Homo sapiens: one gene and its partner. Changing the gene in region 1 together with any one later gene gives a genetic interaction. Each region holds a gene or a part of one and is shown on either strand. Other genes may lie near its edges.

Region 1 (3,500 bases):
CTGGGCTCCAGCAATCCACCCACTTTGGCCTCCCAGAGTGTTAGGATTACAGGCATGAACCACCATGCCTGGCCTAGGCTGGTTTAAAAGAATACAAGCACAAAAAAACTCTGCACTCAAATTTTTAAACTCATAAGGAGAAACTAAAATTTAGCTTGACCTTTTTAAAATAAAAGGTTAATTTTTAAGTGATTAAATACAGTTTATCTAAATCATTGAGGAGTCAGTGCAGAATGTTTGGTGCAGTAAATTATAATAAGTATTCAATATAAGGTCATTGGCCAAAGATACTAAAGGTTCTTGTTGTTACTTCATTGTTACACATATAAAGTGACAAAGGATTTAAACTGAAATCTGTTAGCTACCAATTTTTCTTGCACTGTTTGTTTGTGTTTCAGACTGGGTCTCGCCTCAGTCTCCTGAGTAGCTGGGATTATAGGCTTCTGCCATCACGCCCGGCTAATTTTTTTTTTTTTTTTTTTTTTGAGACAGTGTCTCACTCTGTCACCCAGGCTGGAGTACAGTGGCGTGATCTCGGCTTACTGCAACCTCTGCCGCCCAGGTTCAAGCGATTCTCTTGCCTCAGCCTCCCGAGTAGCAGGGACTGCAGGTGCCTGTCACCGCGCCTAGCTAATTTTTGTAGTTTTAGTAGAGATGGGGTTTTACCATCTTGCTCAGGCTGGTCTTGAACTCCCGACCTCATGATCCACCCGTCTCGACCTCCCAAAGTGCTGGGATTACAGGTGTGAGCCACTGCGCCCTGCCTAATTTTTGTGTTTTTAGTAGAGATGGAGTTTGACCATGTTGGCCAGGCTGGTCTTGAACTCATGACCTCAAGGGATGCGCCCGCCTTGGCCTCCCGCAGTGCTGGGATTACAGGTGTGGGCCACTGTGCCTGGTCATTGCTTTATTTCTAATGATTATTTTCTGTATATCTTCCTGGAATTTCAAAAAGAAATTTATTTATTTATTTATTTATTTATTTATTTATTTAGAGACGGAATCTCTCTATGTTGCCCAGGCCGGAGTGCAGTGGTGCAGTCTCGGCTCACTGAAACGCCTGTCTCCGCCTCCTGGGTTCCAGTGATTCTCCTGCCTCAGCTTCCTGAGCAGCTGGGATTACAAGCATGCTTCACCACACCCAGCTAATTTTTGTCTTTTTAGTAGAGACGGGGTGTTGCCATGTTGGCCAGGCTGGTCTTTAACTCCTGACCTCAGGTGATCCACCCACCTCAGCCTCCCAAAGTGCTGGGATTCTAGGTGTGAGCCACCGCGCCCAGCCAAGAAAATTATTAAAAGTAACATGTTTAATACATTTTCAGGATTTTTATTAGGTTCTTTTAGCCTAGTCATTTTGTTCAAATGTGATTTAAAATATATTGTATCAAGATATATTGGAATAAAATTCAGACATTACATGTTAATATCAAGTTGTAAGAAAATTATTAAAAGTAACTAACATGTTTAATAAATTTTCAGGATTTTTATTAGGTTCTTTTAGCCTAGTCATTTTTTACAAATGTGATTTAAAATACGTTTTTTCAAGATATGTTGGAATAAAATTCAGACATTACATGTTAATATTTATTAAGTTGTGTATCATTGTTATTCATTTCATATCTCATTTAAAATTTTGGTTTTAGACTGAAAATATTCCTGTGGTTAGAAGACCTGATCGAAAAGATCTACTTGGATATCTCAATGGTGAAGCGTGTGAGTACTTTTTAAATTGTTCCCAGTCTTAAACAGACATTGTTTCTTTTTTCCCCTATGAAATAATGATTAGAGGGAAGAGAATTTGTATTTCCACCAAAAAATTAACCTACCTTCATTTTTGTCCATGTGCTCACCTTTTTCTTATACAGTGGATGCACTGTCTTTGCCCTTATGGCCAGTCACCCCTTCCTTGTGTGTGGATTCCATCTCCTTTCACAGTCTCAAAGACTTTGTCTTCGTAAATTGTTGTTTCTCTGACATCATCAGTTTTCTACTTTCTTCTGGATCATTCCCTTTTAGAATACCTACAGTAAGATTTCATGTTTAAAAAATGTTTTTGATCCCACATTCCTACTGTCTACTGCTTCATTTATCTCCTCCCTGATACTGTAAAATATTCTGCAAGAGTTCGTGTGGTATCATTGCTTCTTTTTTACCTTTGTTTCTTTCTTGAAGCCACTCTAGTCTGGCCTTCATCCTTACCATCCCACTAAAATCACTCCTTGTAAGGTCAAAACTGATTTAAGGATTGCTACATCCTTTGGTCTCTTGTACCATACTTGACCTCTCAACAGCATTTGATACTGTTGACCACTCATTTTTGAAAGCCTTTCTTCATTTGGCATTTGGAACACCAGCCTCTTGGTTCTCTTTCTACTCGTTGTTCACCTCTCAGTTTATTTTGGTTACTTCTGTACCTGACCTCTAATTCTTGAAGTTTCCAAGACTTGATCTTTTTTTTTATCTTTTCTTTTAACCTGTATTCTCTAGGTGATCTCTTTCAGTTTTATGGCTCAGATATCATATATATGCTGATGAAATTTCAAGTGTTTTTTTCAGCATTGATTTCTTTCAGGGCACCAGATTTATAAATTTACTGTCAACATGTTTCCTTGAATGTTGAATAGGCATCTGAAATTTAACACTGAAAATGGAATGCCTGATTCCCTCTTTCCCTTCTGCCCTCACACAGAACAAAAACAAGTCTGTTGTTTTCTCAGTGTTCCCACTTTAGTAAGGGGTAGTGAGACGCTCTTCCTGCAGTTGCTTAGGCCAGAACTTTGGTGACATCTTTGTCACATCTCACATCCATTCTATCAACAAGTTGTTTTTTTCTCTTTTTAAAAGTATGACAACTTCTTACCATTCTACCTGCCCTATTTCATCCTTGCTTTTTAGATTATTGTATAGCTTCCTCACAGGTCCCCACTCTTTATTTCCTATAGTGTAGTCTTAGCAATAGAGTGTCCTGCTTTTGAAAAAGTATATAAACTTGATTGTGTCACTCACCTGTGGCTTCCCATCACTCTTAGAATAAAACTCATACTTGTTACCCTGGCAGTCATCTTGCCTCTGCCTAAATCTCTGTGACTCCATCTTCTACCATTCTTCCTTTGCTCATAACAGTCAGTCTTTTTGGTCTTTTAGCTATGCTAATCTTAGCACCTTTGCACTTTCTCTTTCTATCTTGAGTTGTCTTTCTCTACATTATCACATGGCTCACTTGCTTACTATTTCATTTAGATCTGTGCTCAAGTGTTTTTCCAAATGTTGTTCCATCAGAGAAGACTTCTCTGACCACTCTTATCGAAAATATAGTATTCCTTTCCTCCTTCTGTGGTTTTTATATAGTGCCATCCTGATTTATTTTTCACCAGATCTCATACATTGACCTGAAATTATATATCTGTTTATGTACATAGTGTCTGTCTTTCCCATTAGAAGGTAAATCCTAAGGGGACAGACAGTTGTTTGTCTTGTTAAATACCCAGCATTTACAATAG
Region 2 (3,500 bases), on another chromosome or scaffold:
GAGACTCCATCTCTTAAAAAAAGTAAAAATAAAAAAATTTTGGCACAGGGACAGTGGCTCACACTTATAATGCCAGAACTTTAGGAGTCCACAGCGCGAGGACTGCTTGAGGCCAGGAGTTTAAGACCAGACTGGGCAACGTAATGAGACCCCACCTTTAGGAAATAAATACATAAATAAAAATTTGACAATGATAAACATATATAAATTAGCTTTTCTTAGTCCTGAAAAAGATAATGTTATGTGTATGTGTGAGAATGATTAGTTCTCATATGAGAAAAAAAGAATTCATTGCTCTGTGTAGGTTGTGACATTTCCTTCACGATTGAAATTAATTAATTTTTTTTTATTACTTATTTATTTTTAAAATAGAGACAGGTTCTTGCTGTGTTGCCCAGGCTGGTCTCAAACTCCTGGCCTCAAGCAGTTCTCCTGCCTCAGCCTCCCAAATTGCTGTGACTGTAGGTGTGAGCCACTGCACTGGGCCAAAATTACTTAATTTTAACAAGATGATGTAGAGAGGAGAGTTCATTGCAACATAAGCCTAGAATCTTTGTCAGAATCTTAGGAAGTAATGTTTTCAAATTCTGTGTTTTCACCATAAAATGTGTCTTCTCTGTGTCCATCACATGGTTTTTCATTGTTTTCTGCTTTACCATTTTAGTACCATTGGCATTTTTCTTCATTGTAAAAGTAGTAGAAATGGAGTAGATTACATAAGGATGTGATCAGAGGGAATTTATTCATTCAGGGTAAGGGAGTTAGATCCTCTTTTAAGATTCTATCACATTCTAAGGGTTTATGATTCTAAACTGTCAAGTAAATTGTCAAGTGCTGGCAAGCTACAGAATAATTTTTATTGTATCATTGGAAATTTTCCCCTCTATATGTGTTAAAGAGTTTAGCCTGAAGGGATACATACACATACATATATGTAATCAAACCTTGATGGTATTGTATTGCTGATAAATTATTTCTTACCACTTTTCCTTTCTCCTGTGGGAGAAACAAAAGCATATGTTTGTGTAGTATCAGTAATGATATTAGAGAGTGGGAAACATCAGTGAGTGCAGTTTGGGGACTTTATTGGAGACTTTCACTAGTGCTCAAATAAATAATGCTGGTTTTTATCCTACTGTTTGCTTAATGTGGACTAGCCTCTTATTCCCATTCTATGTTTACCTCTCTTAAAATATTGGTCACGCTTTCTTGAATTATAGATCTATTAGGAAAATTCATGAACTGTAGCTAATTTTCATTGTTCATGCTCCAGATTTATTTTGAAATATCGTTAATCTTAGTAGTACAGTAAAGGAGAAATACCACTTAACATTTTTTGTTTTTTTTTCTTTGAGACAGAGTCATGCTCTGTCACCCAGTCTGGAGTGCAGTGGTGCTATCTCGGCTCACTGCAATGCACTTCGCCTCTCCGGGTTCAGCAATTCTCCTGCCTCAGCCTCCTGAGTAGCTGGGATTACAGGCACCTGCTACCACACCCAGCTAATTTTTGTATTTTTAGTAGAGACAGGGTTTCACCATGTTGGCCAGGCTGGTCTGAAACTCCTCACCTCAAGTGATCCACCCGTCTTGGCCTCCCAAAGTGCTGGGATTACAGGCTTGAGCCACCGCACCCCGCCCACTTAACATTTTAAATTAATTTCAAGATAATATCACTTGAATATTTTTACACATATAATTTTTTTAATACATTTATTTACACAGTTTATAATATCCTACAAAGTGATTACAATGAGTAAAAACCCAGTTTTCATTGTTCCTAAAGTGGCTTGATTTATACAACTTAATGTGTTGGGTATTTGTTTCTAAGACTCCCTCTGCTGTCTAGGTTTGGAAGTATTGTGAGGTTAACAGATTTTCTTTTTATAGTTACTACTCAGTTGAACAGGCTTTAAAATACAGAGAGAATCATATTTTTTCTTCATTTTTTGCTTTTATTTATATTTTTCTTTTAATTGGAGACATGACAAGAATTGACTTGTGTATGGATCTTGCATAATTTAAGTACTGCAGGTTTAAAATCTACTACCAGTTTGAGAGTGCCATTTTTCACACTGTAGATTATTAGGTTGAAAAGTATTATGGCTTAAAATCGCTTTTAGCCATTAAATTTAAATAACCTTGCTTTAATCATAAATAGATGGTGGTCACAATGACTAACTGTTAAACTCTTTGAAGACAGGATATTTGGCTTTATATGGCAAGCTTTTGAATACAACAGAAATTAAAACTTTATGGGATAGAAAGAATCTCCTCCAAATTGGTAAACTATAAGACCTTTCAAATGATTTAGCTAATTTCTCCACAAATCTGAGGTATTAGTGTTTTTTTTAAAGTGGTATTCTCCTGTGTTGGGGTCACTTTAAACCTTTTTCTTAATGATAAATATATGAATTGAAACTAATCCCTTAATATATATCATTTGAAAACTGAAATAATATGTTTAGATACTGTTTACTTGTTGATAAATTATTGGAATAGGATGTTCGAATACTGTTTACTTCTTGGTAAATTTTTAAATCCAATGGATTTTACGTAAGTATAGAACTGGAGCTCAAATACTGTTACTGTGTGTGAAGATATATGAACATAGTTTACAGTTGCATGGCTTATATCTAAAGTCCAGAAACATAAGGACAATTAAGTGTACACACACACACATGCATTTGGATTTTGATGACTTAGGTTTGCCAATGTGGAAAAAATAGTAGCAAATTAAGTTCTCCTGTGAAAAAGTCGTTACCTTATTTAAAATTCTGTGCCATTGGTTATCCTTGTCTTTTGTGAAAATTAGTGTTCCTGTTTATAATATTGACAAAACACCTATGCGGATGACATTTAAGAATTCTAAAAGTCCTAATATATGTAATATATATTCAGTTGCCTGAAGAGAAACATAAAGAATCCTTTCTTAATATTTTTTCCATTAATGAAATTTGTTACCTGTACACATGAAGCCATCGTATATATTCACATTTTAATACTTTTTATGTATTTCAGGGTGTTGATGATGCCTTCTATACATTAGTTCGAGAAATTCGAAAACATAAAGAAAAGATGAGCAAAGATGGTAAAAAGAAGAAAAAGAAGTCAAAGACAAAGTGTGTAATTATGTAAATACAATTTGTACTTTTTTCTTAAGGCATACTAGTACAAGTGGTAATTTTTGTACATTACACTAAATTATTAGCATTTGTTTTAGCATTACCTAATTTTTTTCCTGCTCCATGCAGACTGTTAGCTTTTACCTTAAATGCTTATTTTAAAATGACAGTGGAAGTTTTTTTTTCCTCTAAGTGCCAGTATTCCCAGAGTTTTGGTTTTTGAACTAGCAATGCCTGTGAAAAAGAAACTGAATACCTAAGATTTCTGTCTTGGGGCTTTTGGTGCATGCAGTTGATTACTTCTTATTTTTCTTACCAATTGTGAATGTTGGTGTGAAACAAATTAATGAAGCTTTTGAATCATCCCTATTCTGTGTT

The links. Genes that interact genetically often act in the same process or in processes that back each other up.
Region 2: changes in CDC73 (region 1) and KRAS are lethal when combined (synthetic lethality), as found in Homo sapiens cells (2 studies listed by BioGRID, with this or other methods).

Annotation. Positions count from the first base shown.
Region 1 is NC_000001.11:193,128,531-193,132,030, forward strand, and holds part of CDC73 (parafibromin), read left to right. Parts: intron 1-1,643; coding exon 1,644-1,713; intron 1,714-3,500.
Region 2 is NC_000012.12:25,209,430-25,212,929, reverse strand, and holds part of KRAS (GTPase KRas), read left to right. Parts: intron 1-751; coding exon of another isoform or gene 752-752; intron 753-3,018; coding exon 3,019-3,135; 3' UTR 3,136-3,500. UniProt on the Homo sapiens protein: Ras proteins bind GDP/GTP and possess intrinsic GTPase activity. Plays an important role in the regulation of cell proliferation.